Linked DNA regions of Homo sapiens: regions 2, 3 and 4 are each linked to region 1. Evidence: fine-mapped expression QTL. A gene starts in region 1. Each other region holds a variant in brackets. All regions are shown on one strand. Distances are between the middles of the regions. Region 1 holds the start of FAM168A (family with sequence similarity 168 member A). Region 2 overlaps RELT (RELT TNF receptor). Region 3 overlaps FAM168A (family with sequence similarity 168 member A). Region 4 overlaps FAM168A (family with sequence similarity 168 member A).

The links. PIP is the estimated chance that this variant, and not a neighbour inherited with it, causes the effect. A credible set is the group of variants that fine-mapping cannot tell apart.
Region 2: its variant is the best candidate, but not a certain one, in a credible set for the expression of FAM168A in whole blood (GTEx, PIP 0.64).
Region 3: its variant is the best candidate, but not a certain one, in a credible set for the expression of FAM168A in whole blood (TOPMed, PIP 0.82).
Region 4: its variant is the best candidate, but not a certain one, in a credible set for the expression of FAM168A in whole blood (INTERVAL, PIP 0.87).

The regions. Positions count from the first base shown.
Region 1 is chr11:73,594,932-73,601,043 of GRCh38, forward strand. FAM168A (family with sequence similarity 168 member A) reads right to left here and starts at 3,181. Exons shown (of 8, transcript NM_015159.3): 1 at 2,992-3,181. RefSeq lists an enhancer at 2,515-3,243 and silencers at 3,135-3,264, 3,395-3,624.
Region 2 is chr11:73,391,858-73,397,969 of GRCh38, forward strand. It overlaps RELT (RELT TNF receptor), which reads left to right. Exons shown (of 11, transcript NM_152222.2): 6 at 354-611; 7 at 1,980-2,060; 8 at 2,379-2,460; 9 at 2,620-2,877; 10 at 3,230-3,428; 11 at 3,587-5,617. The coding sequence ends at 3,634. Among named protein-coding and RNA genes, the nearest start is that of RELT, 19 kb to the left of the region's middle. The variant C/T (reference allele first, on the strand shown) is at 3,506.
Region 3 is chr11:73,472,652-73,478,763 of GRCh38, forward strand. The region is part of intron 1 of FAM168A (family with sequence similarity 168 member A); the gene reads right to left. Among named protein-coding and RNA genes, the nearest start is that of RELT, 99 kb to the left of the region's middle. The variant G/A (reference allele first, on the strand shown) is at 3,587.
Region 4 is chr11:73,413,554-73,419,665 of GRCh38, forward strand. All of the region lies in intron 4 of FAM168A (family with sequence similarity 168 member A), which reads right to left. Among named protein-coding and RNA genes, the nearest start is that of RELT, 40 kb to the left of the region's middle. The variant T/G (reference allele first, on the strand shown) is at 2,570.

The DNA of each region.
Region 1 (6,112 bases):
TCCACAAAGGCTTCTGTCTATCAATACCTCCATCTGCTCTCTTCTCACCAAGATATCGGGAGGATCAAATGAGGTAAAGATACAAAAACACATTACTACTACACAGGTAACCACGGCTGTGGAAAAAAAAAATCCACCAACACATTTCTCCCAGGCACTTTTCATTTTGGGCTTTCAAAAGCTAGGGCTTTAATATAAACATCCCACCTCTAGACCAAGCCTGCAGATCTGCAAAAACAACGTCTAGACCTCAGAGTAAAGTTATGAGAGAAATGCTCACATTAGATTACAGTCTCACTGAATTACAGGTAACTGCTCAAACCTGATCTTTATTATAATACAGAAAGCTTCCTCATTACAAAACACTTTCAATTCAAAGGATAAGTCCAACGTTCCATCATTCTGCCCATTTTGGAGCTAAAAAAAAAAGATTCTAAATGGTATTTTTATATGCTCAATCGTGAAAGCCAAGGAAAATGGTTTGTTTGCGAGCTAAATTCTGAAGCTTGAACAAAAATAAAAAGAATTATTTCGATCCCAATGGTGCCAATTTTATCTTCTTTACATCCCTCCTCATTTTTTTTCAGTCTGAGCTCTAATCAACAGCCACTTTATGTTTAACATATTATCACAGTTAATGCAATTAGGTCCATAGAACTGTTTCTCTAAAGATGTTCCCTCCATTTGCACTCCTGTGTACCTTCCATTATCATCGTTCTGCCCTAAGAATGAGCATATCGCTAAGGTTTAAATCGAATTTCTGATGAATAGGTGGAGATGCTGTTTCTGTAGTTAATACAATGCGACTACATCAACATCATTCCCCAAAAAATAAAATAAAAATGACTCAATATGCTTTATTTATTCACATCTGACAGAATTCTGATCACCTGAATTCCTTTGGAAGAAAATTCAATCTTTAGAAATACAGTCCAATTATTCTAAATCTTATCAATGTCAAAAGACAATCATATGAAAAACTCCATCAGTACCAAACCATCTCACCAATGAATATTTATGACATTTCCATATTTCCTGTCTTCTCTGTTTACATAAAGCGGTGGTGCCAAGACTCATCTCAGGATTATTAGCCTGCAATACAATGATGGGCCTAATTGCCTTGCAAACCAGGACACTAACAAATGGCGTCTTCAAGCAATCAATTTAAAGAGGGGGTAAAAAAGGCCCAAGCTCTTTTTGCCTATGTGCTTGTTACCTACCTACAAAATAAATTCAGTCTCATATTTTTCAGGCTCACTCATTAGTTCTCAAGCAAGGAATGCACCCTTAACAATCTCAAGCTCATCAAATCTATTTAAATTTCAAAATGCCTGGCTAGTTTTTAAATACACCAGGAGGAGAGGGGAAAAGAAAAGGCAGAGACATCATATAGAAAGATATCCATTACATTCCAGTTTATCTTCTCCCACCTTTAGTTTGGAAGTATGCTTTTTTCCCCCAACTTACTTTTTATGATATACAAATAACAGAAGACACCCTCCCCTCCTTAATTCTACCTTAACTAAATCCCCTTTCAACTTTACCCTTTGGGCTGACTTGACTTCCAAATTTTACTAATATAAATAAAACAAACAAAAACATCACCCGAACAGATTAAAATGGCCCCTAAGAATGAGAAGGTCTCTTCCGTGTCCCCTGCAAAGTCCCCTCTAACAGCCTTACTGCCTCTCACCCAACCACAGCCACCAAGGCTGTTCATTTAAGTATTCCAACCCTTAACCCTCATGTGTCTCTTGGAGGCCACCCCAATCCTTCACCACCAAAATAATCCAACCCAATTCCCCCCTGCTCTCCAGCACAGCTCACTGTCCCTCTCCATCCTCTCTGCCCCATCCATACCAACAGCTCCAGGTCTCCCATTCCTTAAATTTCCCCTGTGCCACCTCACCATCAGCAACCACCTCCCCAGGCCTACCAGCTCATCTCCGAAAGTCCTTCTCCAAAACTCCCTCTGCCACCTTGGCCAAGGGATATTTTCTTCAAGATACCATCCCCCAACTTTGCTCACCCCTGCCGCTATCCTTTCAATGAAAGCAGCCCAGTGATGTTTTATGTGCCCTCTGCCTTGACTCTGCAACCAAGGAGCCACCATGCCCTTTCCAGTGATTGTAAGATCACCCTAAATCCAACCCACTGTGCCCCACACTCCATTTCCATCCCTGTCCTCCCATTTCGGGCCTGACTTCCAATGTGGCCCCTTCCTGCCAGCTCACCATCACACTCCCCTCACTGAATGTCCCACCTCCACCAACTCCTATTCCAACCTCCATCAGCCCACCCCAGGAAACCCCCAAATTGCACTCTTCTGCTCTATCCTAACCCATGCTATTCCATAAGTCTCCACAAATTCCACCAGCCCCAGATGACAAACACCCACTTCAAGCTTGGGTCTCAACCCATGCCAAGCCCCTCACCCCCAACTCCTGCCACCTCCATCATCCTGCCCCAGGTCCACCCCAAATTCCACCCTTCTGAATTAACACTACGCAGGGCCCTAACCAACCCTGTACATGCCACTCACTCTCCGTTGAAATCATTCCCCTGCCCCTCACCCCAGCTCAGATCCCAAGCTGTCAACTGCTCCAGGCCAAACCCAAATCACCACCCTCATTCAGTCCCCTCCCCCATTAAAAGCCATCCCACCCTAGTCTCATCTTCCACCTCGCCCCAAGACCATCCCGAATTCCAACCCGACGCCCCCACCCCACTCTCCTGTCCCAGGTTGGGTTATTCTCCATCAAAAGTCCTCCTCCCTTGTCGCCCGCCCCCCAACCTGCTTGGGTCCCACCCTCACCCCACCCCCGGCCAGCGCCTGGACAAGTCTCCCCCGCCAGCCCGCCGTTCCATCGCGACCTCAACCCCCTCCCCCCAACCTGCACGGGGGCTCCGCAGCCTCCCCTCTCATTCTCGCCAGCGCCACCGGCCCAGACTCAGGACCAGCGGACCCTGTGGCGGGGGGAGTCTCCTCACCGGTGAGCAGCTGCAGGCGAAAACGGCGGCGGCGGCGGCTGAGGCGGCGATGCCCTTGTCTTCTCCGGAGGCTACGGCGGCGACGCTCTCGCCCGTGTCCAGTAGGGTGGCGGATGGCGCGCGGGGACCGGAGCCTCCTCCTCAGCGACTCGGCTCTGAATCCTCTGCAGTAGCCGCCGAGGAGCCCGACGGGTGGGGGGAGGGGACGCTCGGCTGCGGGCGAGGGAGGAGGAGGCGGAGGGAGGAGGCGGGGGACCGCTCAGAAGGGCAGGGAAGGAGGAGCCGGCGCGGCGCCGCGACACGTCCCACAGCCTCAGAGCGCCGGGACCACAACTCCCGGCATGCCCTGCTTTAGCCCGCGCGCGGCCTGCGCCTCCCGCCGCGAGCCCGGTGCAGAGGGGCCGCGCCCTCTCCGGTCACGGACAGTGGAATAAAGCCAACCATCCGCTGGCGAATTTTGTAGACTCAAAGACCACCTGTGAGGAAAGTCAGGTCGCCCGAGGCCCCATCCCCAAGGGGCCGTACTCGCAGCGTCTCCATCCTCTTTGCATAGACACCCCCCTCCCCCCGCCCACACACACACACACACTCTCTGTCTCTCCCTCTCTCCCTCTCTCCCTCTCTCCCTCTCCCTCTCGTCTCTGTCTCTGGACTACACCTCCCAGCATGCCCCTCAGCTTCCTATTCTCCTTCCGGACCCTTCTCAGACCCGGTACTACAGTTCCCAGGGAGTGTGGTCCCTGCGAAATGCTGGGAGATGGAGTTCTCGGTTCTTCCTCCATGTTAAGAAAAAGAAGTGAAAGAGAGGCAAAAGGGAAGGAATACGCCAGCCCACCGAGGATGGGCCTTGATGGGCTAGATCACCTGTGATTCTGTTCATCCCTCGCCATCTCCGTTTCAGCTGTCTCTCACCAGAACTAATGCCGGAGCTTCCTCGCTGGTCTCCCTGCAAATTTGAGGACGATTCGGCAACTTGAATCCAAACGACAAAGGGCATATCCTCTTCTTGACCCAGCTCCATTACTTTTAAGAATTTACCTTAAAAAGATGATCGAACAATTTCGAAAAGATGAATGCACAAAGTTGTTATATGACGTAGTTAATTATGAAGGGAGTAAATGTTCATCGATAGGGTGCTGCTTAAATAAGACGTGACATATACATACAATGCAATACTAAGGAGCCATTTAAAATGATATAAATCTATTGACATGAAAAGCTATTCACAATTTATTCTTCGGGGAAAAAGTTGATTACACAACAGCATGTCTACACGAGTGCATTTATGTGAGGTTTGACACAATATTCTACAAGCATGGAGAGATTTCAGGAAAGAGGTTCGCCAAAATATTAGCAATGATTATCTTGGGGGAAAGGGTGTCAGATTGCACGTAGGTTTTTTTTGTTTTTTGAGACGGAGTCTGGATCTATAGCCAGGCTGGAGTAAAGTGGGGGCGATCGCAGGTCACTGCAACCTCTGCCTCCCGGGTTCAAGCGATTCTCCTGCCTCAGCCTCCTGAGTAGCTGGGACTACAGGCGCGCGCCACCACATCCAGCTAATTTTTGTATTTTTAGTAGAGATGGGGTTTCACTATATTGGCCAGGATGGTCTCGATTTCTTGACCTCCTGACCTGCCCGCCTCAGCCTCCCAAAGTGCTGGGATTACAGGCATGAGCCACAATGCCCGACTGTAATTTTTGTTTTCATATTGTTTGAATTGTTTAAAAGGAGCACATAACGACTGTTTTTTGTTTTCTTTTTTGTTTTGTTTTAATTGTAAGAGACGTCGTCTCACTATATTGCCCAGGCTGGTTTCAAACTCCTGGCCTCAAGAGACCCTCCTGCCTCAGCTCTCAAAAGTGCTGGGATTACAGGTGTGAGCCACACTACACCTGGACAATTTTTTAAGCTGTGCTACTTCCAAAAAACATAATTTCCAAATCTAACAACCTTTCTTTGCTGCCTAGATGCTTTCCATGGCTTCCCATTGTCTCATTCATGCTTCAGCACTGTGCCTGCCTGGTTTTAATAGTTCCACTATTAAAACAAATAATAGTAGTCACTTCCAATTCATAAAGTTGGAAGGGAGAATTTTCTCAATTTTCAATGCGTCTTCTCAAAATTTTTCCATTTCTGGTCTTTCCACACCCATTTTCTCCTTTTCTCTTACTCATTCTTCAAACTCAAGCCAAAGTCCTACCTTCCCTAGAACATATTTTAGACACACTGGTTTTCCTTATATCTGAATTCTTTTTTGTTTGTTTGTTTGTTTGTTTGTTTGTTTGAGACAGAGTCTTGCTCTGTCAGCCAGGCTGGAGTACAGTGGTGCAATCTCGGCTCACTGCAACCTCCGTCTCCCGGGCTCAAGCAATTCTCCTGCCTCATCCTTCCGAGTAGCTGGGATTACAGGCATGTGCCACCATGCCTGGCTAATTTTTTTTTGTATTTTTAGTAGAGATGGGGTTTCACCATGTTGGCCAGGCTGGTCTTGAACTCCTGACCTCAGGTAATCCGCCTGCCTCGGCCTCCCAAAGTGCTGGGATTACAGGCGTGAGCCACCGCTCCCGGCTTATCTGAATTCTTATAGCAGTGGTTTCTAATCTGTTGGCCAGAGATCACGGTGGGGAGAGGAAGTGAAGAGAGAGGTACAGAGTTATTGTAAAGGGCCTATGCAGCTCTGCCTACACAAAGCTATATGTCTTGCACTTTAAAAAAGTTTTTCTCTTCTTCTGACCCTTGTGTCCAGCTCTTCTAGAATACAGAATGTAGTATCAGATTATTTTTGATTTCACGATTTTTTTCATTTAAGCCCTGTTTGACTTGATATTTTCTTCTCTTTTTTCATTTTTTGAGACAGAGTCTCGCTCTGTCGCCCAGGCTGGAGTTCAGTGGCATGATCACAGCTCACTGCCGCAGCGACTCCCTGGGCTCATGTGATCCTCCCACCTCAGCCTCCCAAGTAGCGGGGACTACAGGCACCACCATGCCCGGCTAATTTTTCTTTTTTCTTTTTTTTTCTTATAGAGACAGGGTTTCGCCATGTTGCCCAAGGTGGTCTCAAAGTCCTGGACTCAAGTGATCTGCCCACCTCGGCCTCCCAAAGTACTGAGATTACAGGCA
Region 2 (6,112 bases), 200 kb before region 1:
CCCCTGAGGCACTAGATTCATGGCCAGGCCACAGGGAGGCAGATCCCACGTCCCTGTGCCCAGACATGTGTCCTGTGTGCCATCTCTTCACCCCCTGACCCCAGCGTGAGGGGAGGGTGGGGCTGGGTGTCTGGCCGTCCTGAGGAGGCCTTGTTCAGGACAATGCTTCGATGGCCAGAAGGGAAAACAGGAGGGCAGTGGGTTGACCTTTGCATCCCCAGCATGGCGGGGAGTGGGCTCCCCTGGGCACATTGGCTCTCCTGCAGCCCCCACTGACTCGGGCCCTGGGCCCCTGTCTCTCTGTGTTTGTGTCACTCTGCTTTTGTCCTGCCTCCATCGTCTGTGATGCTCAGAGTGGGGGCGGCGGGCCCGACGTGGCGTGGAGGTGGCAGCAGGGGCCAGCAGCGGTGGTGAGACACGGCAGCCTGGGAACGGCACCCGGGCAGGTGGCCCAGAGGAGACAGCCGCCCAGTACGCGGTCATCGCCATCGTCCCTGTCTTCTGCCTCATGGGGCTGTTGGGCATCCTGGTGTGCAACCTCCTCAAGCGGAAGGGCTACCACTGCACGGCGCACAAGGAGGTCGGGCCCGGCCCTGGAGGTGGAGGCAGTGGTGAGGCCCAGCTGGGGTCCAGGTGGGAAGGACGGGGGCACGAGCCCAGCCCCAGCTCCACTTGGGGGCTGCCAGCGGAATCCTGCCTGGCCTCTGGGGTCTGAGAGGGAGAGGCTTGGGAGGTGATAGCTGCAGACTGACAACATGGGAGGAAAGGTAAGGGGACGAAGGTGTGGCCGTGGGGGCAGAGCAGAGGTGGCACAGCTGGTCAAGTGGCTTCAGTGGATCCTACCCTGGGTGAAGCCTTGCCCAGATGTGGGGATCTGGACTCTTTGGAGGCCACAGTTGTGTGTATGGTTCCAGGGTCGGATGGTGGCCTTGGAGTTACTCAAGGTGACCTCTGACCTCTGGCCTGGAGTAGCAGGAGTGCCCTGTGGCAGGAGGGCTGGCAGGGCAGCTGTCCTGTCCTGGGCAGGCACCATAAGGGGCTCGGGTTTTGGTTCCAGGCTGTAGTTTGAGTTACAAGGCCTGGAACCGGAGGGACAGGCATGCGCCACCACCTTCACCCCCAGGGCCCCGGGCCCCTTTCCTTCTTCCCCACACCACTACTCCCCTGCAGGGCAGGGGCCCACTCGCACACACCCTGCCCTGGGCCCATGGGAGCCTGTGGCTACCTCAAGAGTGAAATGGCATCTCCCATGCTAGCACCCTCGGCTGTCTGGGGCTGGCATGGGAGCCAGAGACCCTTCTAAGTCCTGACACTGAAGTCTGGCGGGGGCAGGAAGCGGACAGGAGCAGTAAGCCGGCAGGAGGAAACGTGGTGACTCAGGGCCATTTTGCCTGGGACTGTGCTTGTTTTCCTAGAGACTTCCCTTTAACTGCTGGATGCTGCCTGGGTGCAAGTCCTGGGAGCTCTGTTTGCTGCTGGGCCCAGGGCTGATCATCGTGGCCCATTCTCACACCCTTGAGATTTGGGCCCAAAGCTGACTAGGGGCACTCAGTTAAATTGTTACATAGGGCACAGTAGAGAGGCCATGGAATAGCAGTTTGCTGTAGATTTGGGGAGTTCTGGGTAGGGTGGCAGCCCACAGCTCCTTGAGGCTGAGGAGGAGACAGTGCAGACCCAGAAGACGCTGACGCACCGCCCCCTCGCCCGCCCAATTCAATGACTGGAGTTCACGTGGCCCTGAAGCCTCTATGCACCCGGGCTGTTGGGTGCAGGAAGCACTGGTGTTGAATCATGAAGGTGATATGGGCTTCTCTGAGCCTGGATCCCACATTTGCAGGGCTCTGGGAGGCTTGTCACCTAAATGCACATGCTCAGGGCCCTTAAGAAGGCCAGGGTTGCCCTCTGCTGGCAGATCATGGTTTAGCTCAGGAGTGCGGCTTCCCCCTCTTCCCCAGGATCAGGGCCCTTCTCTTCCCCAGGAATCAACCCTGCCTACCGGACTGAGGATGCCAATGAGGACACCATTGGGGTCCTGGTGCGCTTGATCACAGAGAAGAAAGGTGAGGAGAAGGTCTGACCCCATCCCAGTGCCCAGGAGAGGAGGGTTTCCTCCAGGAGCCTGTGAGGCAGCCGCGGTGGGCAGAGTCTTGCCCTGCTCTGCCTTCCCTGCCAGGGTGCCTCAAGCAGCCTGGTGCTCTCTGACCCAGGAGTGCACACCTCTGCCTCCCATTCTTGCCTGATGAAGTGGGAGGAAAAGGCGCACAGCCCAGGCTGGGAGTGGTGGTATGGAGGGTAGGTGGGGGGTTCTCTGCTGGGGCAGGGGGTGGGAGGTGTGTCCCATATGGCCACAGTGAGGGTCTGACTGCAGCTACCCACAGAGAATGCTGCGGCCCTGGAGGAGCTGCTGAAAGAGTACCACAGCAAACAGCTGGTGCAGACGAGCCACAGGCCTGTGTCCAAGTGAGTGGGCTGGTGGGAGATAACGGGGCCAAAACCTACATTAACCAGCCTGCCTCCTGGGGATCTCCCACTTGGGTCTCCCTCAAGTCACCCTGTTCCCTGCTGGGGTCTCCTGCCCCTGGCCTGGCCTATGGCCACTTCTGCCTGTGCCCCCTGCAGGCTGCCGCCAGCGCCCCCGAACGTGCCACACATCTGCCCGCACCGCCACCATCTCCACACCGTGCAGGGCCTGGCCTCGCTCTCTGGCCCCTGCTGCTCCCGCTGTAGCCAGAAGAAGTGGCCCGAGGTGCTGCTGTCCCCTGAGGCTGTAGCCGCCACTACTCCTGTTCCCAGCCTTCTGCCTAACCCGACCAGGGTTCCCAAGGCCGGGGCCAAGGCAGGGCGTCAGGGCGAGATCACCATCTTGTCTGTGGGCAGGTGAGATGGGCACAGATGCAGCAGGGGCAGGTAAAGACGTGACAGCCTGGGGGCCGGGAGGGGGAGGCAGGGCCCCAGCTTGGGCCCTGAGCACCCTGCTCAATGGGAGCCCTGCCCTTATTGGGCCTCTCTGGGCAGTGGAGGCGGCCAGAGAGATCAGGACTTTCCGGTTATGTTGTGTCTCACATGGAGCCCTTGCATCCCTAGGGCAGCATCTTGGCCCCCATGGCACCCGGGCCTCTCAGGCTAAGGCTCTGGTCCATGAACTTGCTGTGTGACCCCGGGCACGTGCTGCCTTCTCTGTGCCCCGGGATCCCCGCTAACGGGGATGATTGCCCCACTCTCCTCACAGGTTCCGCGTGGCTCGAATTCCTGAGCAGCGGACAAGTTCAATGGTGTCTGAGGTGAAGACCATCACGGAGGCTGGGCCCTCGTGGGGTGATCTCCCTGACTCCCCACAGCCTGGCCTCCCCCCTGAGCAGCAGGCCCTGCTAGGAAGTGGCGGAAGCCGTACAAAGTGGCTGAAGCCCCCAGCAGAGAACAAGGCCGAGGTGAGAGTCAAGGAGAAAGGCATCTGTTGGCACCTGGGCCAACCCTGACCGAAGACGGGGCAGGGGTGGAAGTGCAG[C/T]GGGCCCTAGGCAGGGGCCACTTTCCTGGAGCCAGAAGCCAGCCCCTGACTCAGCTCTGACCCCTCACCCCTGCCCACCAGGAGAACCGCTATGTGGTCCGGCTAAGTGAGAGCAACCTGGTCATCTGAGGGGCGGTCTAGTCTAAGGACACTGCGGCCCTGCCCTGGGAGGTTCCGAAGGCTTCCTGGAGGAGGTGGAGCTGCAGCTGGGACTGTGAGGACCGAGAAGCAATGGCCCAGCAGACGAGACAGCAAAGACCAAGGCCTGGAGGTGGGAGCGTCTGCCCCAGTGAGGAGGCAGGTGGCCGGCGGGCACTGTGTACAGGAGCAGGCTGAGCCCCGCCCCTGGCCCTGCTGCCATGTTGCTCCCCTGAAGGATGCCCCGACCCCCGTGCCTGCCCTGGCTGGATCCTAGGAGCCCACGGGATTCTCTGTATCATCAGAGGCTGGGCTTGGCAGAGGGGAGGGGCCTGTGCCCGTCACCCCTGGCCCCATTCCTTGGTAATTAGCCACACCCTTGCCTCTGTACAGGGCCCTAGAGCAGATGTGCGTCCCCCTCCTCTTCCAGCAGGTCTATAAAGGGAAGGGGTAGCAGAAAGTCCTGGGCTAGGAGAGTGAGTCCCTGGGTTCTAATCTTGGGCACATCTGTGGCCATCGCTGGGTCCATTTTTCTGACTGTGAAGTAAGGAGAGACGTCTCAGTACCCAGGGCCTCTTCAGCTCTTTGTAGGTTCTGGGCTGGGTTGTGGGGGACTGGGGAGCTGGGCTCTACCATCCCTCCCATTAGTAGCTTTATCCAGCCCCGTTTTTGCTGCTTCCAGGGCCTCTGCCTTCAAGGCCCCCATGGGGCTGTCCATCCATGGCTCTGCCTACGGAAGGGGCTTAATGCATGTGCCTGCCCCTCCCCCAGCTGTTTTTAATGAAACTGAAAAAATAGACTTGATCCCGGCAGGACTGTGATACAGAGCCCTAGCCTGCCCAGCCAGCCCCAAGATCTCAGGAGCTTTAGGGAGAAGACTTGGTGGGGCTGGAGCACACCTTGGGCCTCAGTGGTTTCTGTGTCCCTGTGGTGCCAGTGCTTCTGGGCAGTGCAGGCGGCTGCCAGGCCCAGCCCTGACTTCCACTCTGGCTCAGCAACCTGGTTATTTATGTGGGGCCGTGCAGGCATGGGCCCACTGCCTGTCCATCCTGTTTCTCTTATTTATTGAAACTCACCATTGCCCTATCCTTGTGTCTCCACCCCCTTCCATGTGTTGAATAATAAAAGGTGGGAAAGTGCTGTCACGAGGAGCTCCTTTTCTCTGTGCCCTTCCCAGCTTATCCGCCTGTTCCACTTGTACCTGTCCAGCCCTGCCCTGTGTTGGGCACCGTGACAGGCTGCCCTCCCCTCACAGTTCCTGCACCTCAGCAGCCAGGGAAGCAGGGCCCAGAGGAGACCCATCAACTCATCTGGTTCTCACCAAAGCCCCTAGCTAGAGGCAGGGCTGTCCCACAGAAATAGTGTGAGCCACATATGTGACTTTAAATTTTCTGACAGTCACATTTCAAAAAGTAAAAAGAAGCAGGTGAACTTAATTTTTTTTTAACCCAGTCTATCCAAAATATTTTCATTTCAATATAAAATCAGTATAAAAAGTGTGAATGAGCTGTTTTTGCTTTTGCTTTGAAATCTGGAGTGTATCTTACACATCTTGATTGGAACTCAAATATTTCAAGGGCTCCATAGCCACGTGGCCAGCAGCTACCACACTGGTCAGCGCAGCACCTGAGGAAATGCACTGTGTGGAGCCCGGGAGGTAATTGGGGGTGAGGAAGATGTGCGGGCCAGGGAATGTGTTCCACAGAGAGGGACAGCATGTGCAAAGGCTGAGCACCAACACATAGTGGTCACCTGGGCCTTATGCCCAGGGAGCCTCCAAAGCATTCAGCTCCTGCTTGGCCAGTGTGGAGAGGAAAGGAGCCACAGGAGCGGGTGCTACACCCGGCAAGACAGAGCGTCTCCATCTAAAATTCCTAGGGCAAGCTTCCAACCCGGCCCAAGGGCCGCATGTGGCCCAGGATATGGCTTTGAATGGGGCCTAACACAAATTCATAAACTTTCTTAAAACATTGAGATGTTTTTGCTTTTTTCTTTTCTTTTTAGTTCTTCAGCTATTGTTAGTGTTAATATGCGGCCCAAGAAAATTCTTCCAATGTGGCCCAGAGAAACCAAAAGATTGGACACCCCTGTGCTAGGGTTTGGTAATGGGAAATGGGTCGGGGGCTTAGGGCCAGCTGGGTGGGGCAACAGGAGCAGTCCTGGGGGCACCTGTGACACAGCCATGGAGGATGTCCCATGCCATCCAGATGTGAAGGCCCAGAGCTCTCAGGAGACAGACCTGGAGACAAGAAGACCTACAGGCACTCAGGTGGGTGTTTAGGCCAGGACTGGGCTGGGAGGAAATGTCCTGGGGACGATGCCTGGGCTGCTCCAGGGCACCACAGAGAAGGCACTGCTAGGGAGGCAGGAAAGAAACCAGGGAGGGCAACGTCCGTGGCAGTGTCCTGGCAGCCAGGGGAGGGGTGGGCGCAGGGTGGGCTGCAAGGCCAGGTGCTGCTGGGGGGTGAG
Region 3 (6,112 bases), 120 kb before region 1:
TTCAGATGAAAGATGATGGTGGTAGTAGCAGTGATGGTGGTGGTGGAAACTAGTCATGTTTTTTATATATTTTGAAGATCAAGCTGATAGGAATTGCTAATGGATTTAATATAAGGTATGAGAGGAAGAAAGACATCAAGAATGATGCCAAGGCTTGAGAAACTGGAATAATAAAAATGCCATTTACTGGTGAGAACTATGAGAGGAGTAGGTTTTGGGTGAAGAACAGAAATCTGGATTTGGACTTAGATTGGAGATGCCTAAGAATTTTGCTCAGAACAATGTTTGATATACAATCAACACCCCATAGAAGGTTAGCCATTAGGACTACCACAAACATTACCTCTTTGGTGGTTCTGTGGAGGTTAAAAAAAAAGGAAAAAAAATAATAAATACTACCCCTACTACCAGCAGCTACCATTTACTGAACACCTACCATGTGACAGGTACTGTGCTAAGGACTTACTAAGTCCCTGTCAGTCTTATAATACTTGCAAACTAAGTATTATTTTTATTATATTACAGATAAGTAAACTTAAGTCCAAAAAAATGAAGTGACTAGCCCAAGATCTCATAACTAAGAAGTAAGGAAAAGCCAATTTCAAAGCCAGGTCTGTTTGATTTCAATGTCCAAGTTACTTTCACTGTACTAGATGAGGCTTCCAGGCTCTCTAGTCAGCTACCCCAGTACTAGGTTCGCCTCTGGAACAGTAGGCCTCAAACCCTTGTTCAACTCAAGAGCCTAAGTGCTCTGCTTGGACCCTAACAGATCACAACAGGGAGGCAGTTCATATCTACCACAGTACCTGGCACCTGCTGGGTCACTGCTGGGCACCATGGGCAGTTATAACTATATGATATGGCCTGATGTGCCTACCTCTCTGGTTGCAACTTCTACCACTATCTTTTTGTTTTCTTCACTTCAATCACAATGACTTCCTTGTTGTTCCCTGAAGACACCATGCATGCTTGTGCCTCTGGGTCTTTGCACTTGCTTTTTCCCCACACCTAGAATGCCCTTTTCCCCAGATATCCAAATGGCACAGCTCCTCACTTAATTCAGGTCTCTGTTCAAATGTCACCTTATCAGAAATGCCTTCCTTAACCAACTTATCTAAAATAGGTCCTCCACATGCTGTTATTCTCTGTTCTCTCATCCTTTCTTACTTTTTTTTTTTTTGAGATGGAGTCTCGCTCTGTTGCCCAGGCTGGAGTGCAGTGGCGCAATCTCGGCTCACTGCAACCTCTGCCTCCCAGGTTCAAGCAATCTGCCTCAGCTTCCCAAGTAGCTGGGATTACTGGCACCCACCACCACACCCAACTAATTTTTGTATTTTTAGTAGAGATGGGGTTTCACCATGTTGGCCAGGCTGGTCTCAAACTCCTGACCTCAAGTGATCCACCCACCTCGACCTCCCAAAGTGCTGAGATTACAGACATGGACCACCGTGCCCGGCTTACTCTTCTTATTGATATCTATTTTAGTCTGTTTTGTGATGCTATAACAGAATAGCTGAGACTAGGTAATTAATAATGAACAGAAATTTATTTCTCACAGTTCTGGAGCATGGGAAGTCCAAGATCAAGGGGACGGCATCTGGCAAGGGCCTTCTTGCTATATCATCCCATGGAAGGGCAAGAGAGAGAATCTATTCCTGAAAGCCTTTTAAAAAAATGATTTTTTTTTTTTAAAGATATGGGGTCTTACTGTGTTGTTCAGGCTGGACTGCAATGTCTATTCACAGGCACAGTTACGGCACACTACAGCTTCAAACTGCTGGGCTCAAGTGATCCTCCTGCCCTAGTCTCCCAAGTAGCTCCCTGAAAGCTGGCTCCTCAAAAGCCTGTTAAACAGACATTAAGCCCACCCCTGAGGACAGGGCCCCCAGAACCTAATTGCCTCTTAAAGGTCCCACCTCCCAATACTATTACATGGGCAATTAATTTTCAACATAAGTTTTATAGAGGACAAACATCCAAACCACTGTAACACCTATTACTGTCTGACATATTTTCTTGTTTATTCTTTCCCCCATTAGAGTAAGGTCCATGAGAATGAGATTCTGTTTATCTTGTATCCCCAGTGCACAGAATATTACCTGGCACAAAACAGGCACCAAATACATATTAGTTGAACAAACAATGAGCCATCTTTCATGCTTCTCCAAAATAAAACTGTGAAAAAAGCTTCAAGATGTTTGGCATTTCTTGGCATATCCCAGTCAACTTCTTGGCTCCCTATCTCTCCAGCAGCTACTTCCAATGCCCAGAGAAGCCTCTACTAGGAGCTCATCTTGGGCAAAATAGGCAATGGTAAGGCCCAGCAGTTGCATGACATGTGAGAGAGAAAAGAGAGGTGCTAAAGATTCCTCCTGGTGAAGCTGATTTTTCACTTCTAGATTCCTACCCACTGTTCTACAAATGGCTTCCTGCTACCCTCAAAACATCTCAACTATTTCTTTCAAAATAACGAAATATATGACCATTAAATGACAAGCAAAAAAGCCCAGAGATTAAAGTAATATTTACACAACAGGTTGCAGTGTTTAAACTTAGTGTTTTAGTTTGCAAACTACTACACTTTGCAAACTAAAATGGTAAAATTCTTTGAAAAATTTACCATTTGAAAAATGGTAAAAATGGTAAATTTTTCAAATAATTTTACCACTTACACAGTGCTTTAGACTTTACAATGAGATTTTAACCATTATCTCACTTGGTCCTTTGAAGTAAGCAATGCAAAGATTATTAATTTCATTTGACAGACCAAGAAACTAAAGCTTAAAGGTTTAATGCCTTCTGGGATAGATACTGTTGGGAAAGGAAAAAGATTGTGTTTGCCCAAAAGAGGATATGGTCTACCTAGGAAAGTTTAAAAGTTAAATAAAAATTAAAATGCCAAAAGTAATAGAAGGAGGTGGAACTTCTGGAACAAAGTGCTTACCAAACCCTTTCCCCCAAAAGCAAAAATAAAATGAGATGAAATGTTAAAAAAAAAACCATTTTGGGCCAAAGTATGAAATGTCTATTCAAGAAAAACTTCTGAACCACATTAAGAACAGTGAAAATCCATGGCATTTTACCCTGGGGCTGCCCTTATCCCAATCCCAAGCTCTGTAGGGGGCCTGCTACTAGGGCAGGCTAGACCAGGCTAAAAGGACTACTGCAACCAGAGTGGGCTGATTTAATTTGAAACTGAGCATAGAAAATCCAATGCCCAGAGTCATTGTCAAAAACAATAGTGAGGCAATTTGGGGAACAACAGCAAATAATCCAGGAAGGCCACTAATGCAGCTACTCTGAGGTCATACTAGTTGGTGCAGGCAACAGACCTGCAGATAAGCCAGAAATTTTAAAGGGAGGTCTGGGGAACACAACAACCATAGTGGGTCTTGATAAACTTTCATAGGATCCCTAGTGGTCTGTAAAGAAGGTCTTCTGTATCTGCTGATCCTGGGTGAATTTAAGGCCTTGGACATAACAAAACTAAAAGTTAGAGCATAACTGTAAATTGCCTGAATTTTGAATGCATTCCCCAAACCACATACAGATCCACTGGTAAAGGGTGGAAGCCTTCCTGGCCTGC[G/A]TTTAATCAGAACTCCTGATCAAACATTGGATGGCCACTAATCTATGCCAACCCAGGGGTGACCTTTAGGAAGCCAAGTTTAAAAATTAAAATAGTAATTAAAAAAATATGGCCAGAGACATCAGAAATCACACTGCAAAGGAGACAGACTCTACAGAAGAGTCTAAGCAAGTCACTAAACAAAAAATCCCAGCAACAACAACCTCCTGATGGTGGGGTGGGGGTGGGGTGGGTGGGTGGAATCCGAATCAAGAATTGCTACAATATATTATCTAAAATATGTAGTTTTCAGCAATACTGACAAAATCATGAAACACGCAAAGAAACAATAAAGTATGTCCCATTTGTGGGGGAAAAACAGGTAACAATAAATTTTGTTCTTGCAGGAGTCTAGATATTGGAATCAGCAGATAAATATTTCAAAGCAGCTATTACAAATGTTAAAAAAAAACTAAAGAAAACCACACTTAAAGAATTAAAGTATGATAATAACTTATCAAATAGAGAATATCAATAAAAAATATAAAAATTGAAAGAGTCAAATGGAAATCGTATTCTGAAATGAATCATTCAAGAGAGGCTCAGAAGCAAACGTGAGCTGGCAGAAGAAAGAATCACTGAACTTGAAGACAGAGCAATAGAAGTTATACAATCTGAAAAACAAAAAGAAAACAATGAAGAAAAATAAACTGTGAGAAACTAGCAAGCAAACCAAAATACAAGCATGAGAGTCCCAGAAAGAGGAGAGAAAGAAAATTAGGTGGGAAAAATGGGAATACTATGCCATTAAAAAAATAAAACAAAAAACAAAATCATGTTCTCTGCAGCAACATGGATGCAGCTGGAGGTCATTATCCTAAGCAAATTAACCCAGGAACACAAAACTAAATACCACAGATTCTCACTTATAAGTGGGAGATAAACATTGAGTACACATAGACACAATGATGAGAACAATAGACACTAGGACTTACTTGGGCAGGGAGGGTTGAAGGAGGGTGAAAGTCAAAAAAAAGTCAGGTACTATGCTCGCTACCTGGGTGATGAAATCATTTGTACACCAAATCCCAGTGACACGCAATTTACCCACGTAACAAATCTGCATATGTTACCCCTAAACCTAAAATAAAAGTCAAGGGGGAAGAAAAAGAAATTATACCACAAATTGAAAAAAAAAGAAGATATAATGTCCAAAAACTTCCCAAATTTGATTAAGACAACAACAACAACACATATTAAACTACACATCCAAGAAATACAATCAACTTCAAGTTGGATAAACACAAAAAGATCCATAACCGGACACAATATAGTAAAACTTCTAAAAGTCAAAGAGAAAATTTCAAAAGTGGCAAGAGAAAACAACTTATCTGATAAAAGGGAATAACAATAAGATTAACAGCTGACCGGAGGCCAGAAGACAGGAGGTTGGTATATTCAATGTGCTGAAAAAACAAACAAAAAACCTGTCAACCAAGAATTCTAAATCCAGCAAAACTATCCTTTGAAACTGAAGTCAAAATAAACACATTCCCAGATAAATAATTGAGACAATTCATTGCTAGCAACCTGCCTTTCAAAAAATACTAAAGAAATACTAAATATTTATGACTGAAAGGAAGTGATACTAGACAGTAATTCAAGTCCACACACAAAAATAAAGAGCACCAGGAAAGCTGATATGTAGATAGATAGATAGATAGATAGATAGATAGATAGATAGATAGATAGATAAAACAAGGTATAAATATTTTTCGTGTTAACTGGCTTAAAAGACAATTGCATAAAACAACTATAAAACTGAATTGTTGGCCTTATGATATATAAAGATACCATTTACATAAAAACAAGAGTCCAAAGTAAGGAAGTATGGGAATGCTGCCATATTGGAGCAACATTTCTACATTTTACTGAATTACATTAGTTTGCATCTGAACTAGACTGAAATAAATGCAATAAGTTATAATAAATTAAGATGCATATTTAATCCCCAAAGCAACCAGTGAGAAAATAAATTTTAAAATGTTAAATATCGACAATATCAATAAAAAGGAACAAACTACTGATACATGTCACAACATGAATTAACCTTGAAAATATTATGCTAAGTGGAAGAAGCCAGGGCAAAAGAACACATATTGCATGATTCCATTTATATGAAATGTTCAGAAAAGACAAATCTGTACAGGCAAACAGTAGATTTTTGATCATCTGGGACTCAGAGCAGGAATGGCGATTGACTGCAGATAGAAGCAAGAGATTTCTTTGGTGTGGAAAAAAAGTCTAAAATGATTTTTGGTGGTTACAAAATTCTGTAAATTCACAAAAAAACACTGTACACTTAAAATGAGTACATTTATCATATCTAAATTATACCTCAATAAAGCTACTAAAAATACAAATTGTTGATTCAATAGTTACAAATTTTTAATAAGCTAAAAGAGATTAAGTCATTTACTTCAGCACACTCATTTTATATAAACTGATACTTGCTGTGCCAGGCCATGCATAAAGTGTTACAGATTC
Region 4 (6,112 bases), 180 kb before region 1:
GGAGACACAATTTACTTATCTATAAAATAAAGGGGTTTTATAGATAAACCAGAGATAGACATTTCCCAAATGTGGACAACGTACTATAGATCCCAAGGGATCTTAATAGTTGTTTTTGCCAAAGAAAAGGAAACAAAAGAGTTCTATAGTCCCATATGTAAAATAGAGATAAACAGTTAAGATTTTGTTTTTATTCCATGACCCTGAGAAGTTTTTAAAACAATAGGATGGGCTGGATGTGATGGCTCTCACCTATAATCCCAGCACTTTGGGAGGCCAAGGCAGGAGAAGCACTTGAGACCAGGAGTTTAACACCAGCCTGGGTAACACAGACAGACTACATCTCTAAAAAAAGAAAAAAACTTAGCCAGGCATGGTGGCTGGTGTAGTCCCCAGCTACTTGGGAGGCTGAGGCATGAGGATGGCTTGAGCCCAGGAGTCTAAGGCTGTTGTGAGCCATGATCACAACACTGTACTTCAGCCTGGGTGACAGAGCAGGACCCTGTCTCTTAAAGAAGGTGGGGAGGTGAACTGTGAATCTCTAAGATGGGAGTATGTACAAGACTGTATTTTCCAAATTAATTTTACCACAGAATCTTTTATTCATACTATAAACATTTAAAACAATTAAATTTCAGCCATGTTTTTTGTAATTGAAGCTAGTTTTGGTAAACAAAGTTATATTGTAACACATCCACATCCATTCATTTACATATTGACTAAGGCTACTTTCCTGCTACAATGGTAGTCACTGACAGAGAGCATATGGCCTTTTTAAAAGCCTAAATATTTGGCCCTTTACAGGAATGTTTGCTGACCCCTAATTTAAAGGAATATATCAAGGTGTAGAGAAACCTAGCAGAGCTGAAAGCATCCCTTTTCTATGCAGGAGAGTAGGACACCCCTGAATCAGAAGGTGCCTGTTTCTGAAAGCTCTGTAGCACAGAGCCATGGTTATGAGCAGTCTGGAGACAGACTGACTGCCTGGGTCCAAACCCCCAGCTCTGAGACTTAATAGCTATAGGATACATCAGTCTCGCGTGTGATATGGGAACAGTAATGGTACCTACTTCATTGTGATAAATACATTAACTGTTAAGTAAAAAGCACTTAGAACAGTACCTGACATATTAGAAGCACTTTATAAAGATCAGCTATTATTATTTTCTCTCTCACTTTATAGGGACAGTAAGCTTCTGTCCTAAGGGTATGCAGGCAGAGCCTGGTCTGAGAGACTAAAGCTAATCTATGACTACTATGGTCTGTCCCAGCTTGGAACACAGACTCCAGGATTCTAAGATTCTAAAATGTTATGGCTTAAAATGCCATGATTTTATGATTCTTTAAAGTTAACAGGCCAAAGATGCTGATGACTTTCCTTTATGCTCCTGGAGAATGTGCTCTGGAATTTTTCTCTTCCCTGGGGAAGCTGGATTACCCACTGTATGCCACAAGGACAGCCATATTACAAAGTGGTGAGACTATCCCTCTGAGGAAAATCAAAAAGCTCCAAGAGACTGCAGTAGAATTTGGTTCCCACATCTAAGAATAACCTTGTCTGAGAATGTTTCCCTTTCTTCATGTTATGAAATGAGACACACACATACTCAGAATACAAATCAGTAGCCAAAACACCCTTGGCAGCCAAAGAGATGATGCTGCAGAAGAAGGCCTTGCTTGTTTGTCCAGACAGTCTGAGATAGAAGCAGAACTGCAGAGCTAGAAGACTCAGAGATCATTAAGACCAACGTAAACATTTCACAGATGAGATAATGAGTAGTTGCTGAAAGAGAGAGCTGTTTGTGGGGATCTAAGACTCAGTGCTACTTCCTCTAACCACAGTGGTTCTCAAGGTTACCATTTGTCAGGAGGATCTTCATGAGGCTGGAGAAACTGCCTGGGGGCCCTCATCCTAGGTTCTGTCAGTAAGTCAGGTCAATTCCTCTCAGGGAATATCCTCATTTGGACTAGACAGTATCAGAGAACTTCTCTAGTGCTGACATTCTAGGTCTCTGAGTATTTCAGAAGACTTTCATGAGGAAATCATTTCAGAGGACTTTCCATAATTTACTAGTGGTCCTGTCAATACTCTTGAGGAACACTGAAAATTCCCCTGGAGCTATAGCCTGAGCTTGGGTGACACAAAAATCAGGGTTTATTACTTTATGCATCTAAGTAAAAGAAGCTGTTGGGCTTGTTGCAAAAAAGTCTCACAGATTTTGCCCAAATGAACTTAGACTCAGTTCACTCACTGGAGGCCTGGCTATCCTGAAAGGAATTCTAAGTCTGAAGGTCACAGAATTAAGACTTTGGAATGTTGTGCCTGAAGGACATTAGAGGTTTATATTCAACCTCCTCCTTTTCCGAGAAAGAACCTGGAGCCCAGAAGGACAGATTTTCCCCAAATTGTACAGCACATCAGTACACAGCTAGGCCCAAAGTTCAGGGCTCACCCTGCCCTAGGCAGAGCTCTTGCTGAGTTAAAGTCTCTGTAGTCCAATCTTGGGCATTTAATATACTGGCCTTTGTTGTCCCCATTTCACTAAAGGCAATATCATGAAAGAAAAAA[T/G]GAATTAGATCACTCGAAGTCCCAGCTCTGCCTTATAAAAGAGGCTTTGTTTATGATGTCCTATTCTTTCTCTTAGGTTCCTAACCATAATTTTAGAATCAAATGGGATAATAAAAAGAGTATGTACATTAACAAGATAAAACCTTTTCAGCGCTTTCTGCAATCCTTTTTCACTGTCATAAATCTTTTTCAGTTGTAGAAGCCCTACCACCTTCAAAGGCTTGATCCTTGCATCACGGATGCCTTTTAGACTAATTGGTTTATTGATCATCAGATTTATATGTCTGGACAAAATAAAGCTCTATGTCTGAATCTTGCTTTGACCCCTAAGACTCCTTGTTGGTAGCCAAGTGAGACAGTGATGAATCAGCAGGAGACCTAATTACAAACAGGCTTAGCAAGTATCAGTGAAATTGAACTGAATTTGTCAAAGTGCCCTGAATTTTCTGTGGTACTAGAAGCCACAAAATCTGAATGCTGGGAGGAATCTTTTTGAGTATGGGAGGGCCAGTCAACCCCAACTGCATTAAAAAATGGCACAGGTTTATACATTACTTGCTTGAAACAGAGGTAGGCCAGGCATGGTAGCTGGTGGGCAGACAGCTTGAGCCCAGGAGTTCGAGACCAGCCTAGGCAATGTGGGAAAACCCCATCTCTACAAAAAATTAAAAAAATTAGCTGGGCATGGTTTTGCATGCCTGTGGTCCCAGCTACATGGGAGGCTGCGGAGGGAGGATTGCTTGAGCCTAGGAGCTTGAGACTGCAGTGTGACGTGATTGTGCCACTGGACTCCAGCCTGAGTGACAGAGCAAGACCTTGTCTCAAAAAAAAGGTGGGGGTGGGTACATTTTGGTCTTTTTCAGGGACTGTGATAGCCTGTCTGGGAGGGAACAGTGGGATGTGGCTGCTGGACACTTAATGGGATTTCAGGAAGATTTCAACATAGTAGAAGGCAAGGCCTTCTGTTACTCAGACTTCCTGTGGAAAGGGTTGCCTCTGAAGGGAATGAGTACTCCATTTTTGGAGATGGTTTGTTGGCCAGCTAAGGGCAGCTAGAGAGGTGGTCCCTGTTGGGGTGGAAGACGCTGAGTACACATCATCTTGCTGAGAGATAAGGAGTCTAATTGCAAGAAAGAACCTTGGAGATGATTTAGTTCAGTTCCCTCATTTTGCAGTTTGAAAAATCAAGGTCCAATGCATGGACATCAATTATCCAAGGTTACACAGAACCCAGTCTAGAATTCAATGCAGCTTCCACTCCAGGCTGCTTTCTGCTACACTACAGTAGGTGTGCCTATATGCGTCTATATCCAGATGTTTAGATGTAAGAGAGAACATGTATATCCCTATTTTTATATATATATAATCTTACGTATGTTCATTCATTCTACCTGAGGTATCTGGAGAAACTCCTTATGGCTGACATACCTCTCTCTCTTTTTTTTTTTTTTTTTTGAGACGGAGTCTCACTCTGTTGCCCAGGCTGTAGTGCAATGGCGCAATCTCGGCTCACTGCCAGCTCCGTCTTCTGGGTTCACACCATTCTCCTGCCTCAGCCTCCCGAGTAGCTGGGACTACAGGCACCCGCCACCATGCCTGGCTAATTTTTTGTATTTTTAGTAGAGATGGGGTTTCACCATGTTGGCCAGGATGGTCTCGATCTTCTGACCTTGTGATCCGCCCACCTCGGCCTCCCAAAGTGCTGGGATTACAGGTGTGAGCCACCGCGCCTGGCCTGACATACCTCTCTTAAAGAGTAAAATCAATCTCATGAGAAAAGTCAGTAACTGAATCTTAACCTGGGTGATACCTTTTTCCGGCTGTGCTGCTTACTAGCTGGGTGGCGTTGGACCTATTACCTTTCTAGGCCTCATCGTTCAAACTGGGATGAAAATCCACCTAAATAACTTAGTAGACTGAGTGTAATGTAGATTAAATGAAAGGGTGATTATGAGACTATATTTTACAAAAGGTGAGTTACGTTGTATAAACATAAACTGATGTTGACATCTAGGGGCAATGAAAACTTGAGAAAATGACATTGGATGTTGATATGGTTTAGATGTTTGTTTCCTCCAAATGTCATGCTGAAATGTAACCTCCAGTGTTGGAAATGGGGCCTGCTGGGAGGTACTGGATCACAGAGGTAGATCCCTCATGATGGCTTAGCACCATCCCCTTGCTGATGAGTGAGCTCTGATTATTTAGAGTGTGGCACCTTCCCAGCCCCTTGCTCCCTCTCTCACCATGTGATATGCTGGCTTCCTCTTTTGCCTTCCGCCATGACTGTAAGCTTCCTGAGGCCCTCACCAGAAGCTAAGCAGGGGTTGGTACCATGCTTGTGCAGCCTGCAGAACCGTAAGCCAATTAAACCTCTTTTCTTTATGAATTACCCAGCCTCAGGTATTTCTTTATAACAACACAAGAACAGACTAACACAGATGTTTTAAAGAAAAGAAAAAAATACAATGAATTCTTCTAGTCTACTTACTTAGTAGATTAATAATTTGTGGAACCACACACTATCAGGCCTTGCCTGGAATATCCCTTTGAGGGCTTATCCAGCCCTCACAACTTAAGAGAGAAGTTCTCACCACATCCAAAGTCAGTCATTCCTCTATTGAACAGCTCCAACAAGACACAAAGTTCTTCCTTATATGGAGTCAAAATGCCACTCAGTAATTTCATTTTTTTTTTTTTTTTTGAGACGGAGTCTTGTTCTGTCGCCCAGGCTGGAGTGCAGTGGCGTGATCTTGGCTCACTGCAAGCTCCGCCTCCCGGGTTCATGCCATTCTCCTGCCTCAGCCTCCTGAGTAGCTGGGACTACAGGCGCCCACCACCATGCCCGGCTAATTTTTTTTGTATTTTTAGTGGAGACAGGGTTTCACCGTGTTAGCCAGGATGGTCTCAATCTCCTGACCTCGTGATCCGCCCACCTTGGCCTCCCAAAGTGCTGGGATTACAGGCATGAGCCACCGCGCCCGGCTGCCACTCAGTAATTTCTAAACATTGGTCCTCATTTCCCCAGTGGAACCACTTTGTGTTAAAAATTAGATGTGACGGTGACAACATCAGTTACCCTACTGAGCCTCAGGATGAATATGACCAGTCTGACTGGCTAGCTGGTTTCTGGCCTCCCTGAAGACTCCTCATACACACCTTGGTCCCACAGTGCAGCTTGCACTAGGGCAGTGTTTCTCATACAGAGGGCAATTTTGCCCCATAAGGGACACTTAGCAATGTTTAGAAACATTTTTGGTTGTCACAATGAGGCTTTCCTACTGGCATGTAGGGTAGAGGCCAGGGATGCTGTTAAACATCCTATAATGCACAGGACAGCGCCCCCACAACAAAGAATTATTTGGCCTAGATGTCAATAGTGCTGAGATTAAGAAGCCCTGTGCTAGAGGGGGGAGCCCTCTCTGTCCAAAGACCCACAGACCTTCAAAATGTGCCCTCTGTCCTTTCCCCCTAAAATGCAGTAACAGTCCTTCCCCAATCAACTTGTTGGCCAGGTGAGTATTTCCTTCTCCTTCCCTCAGT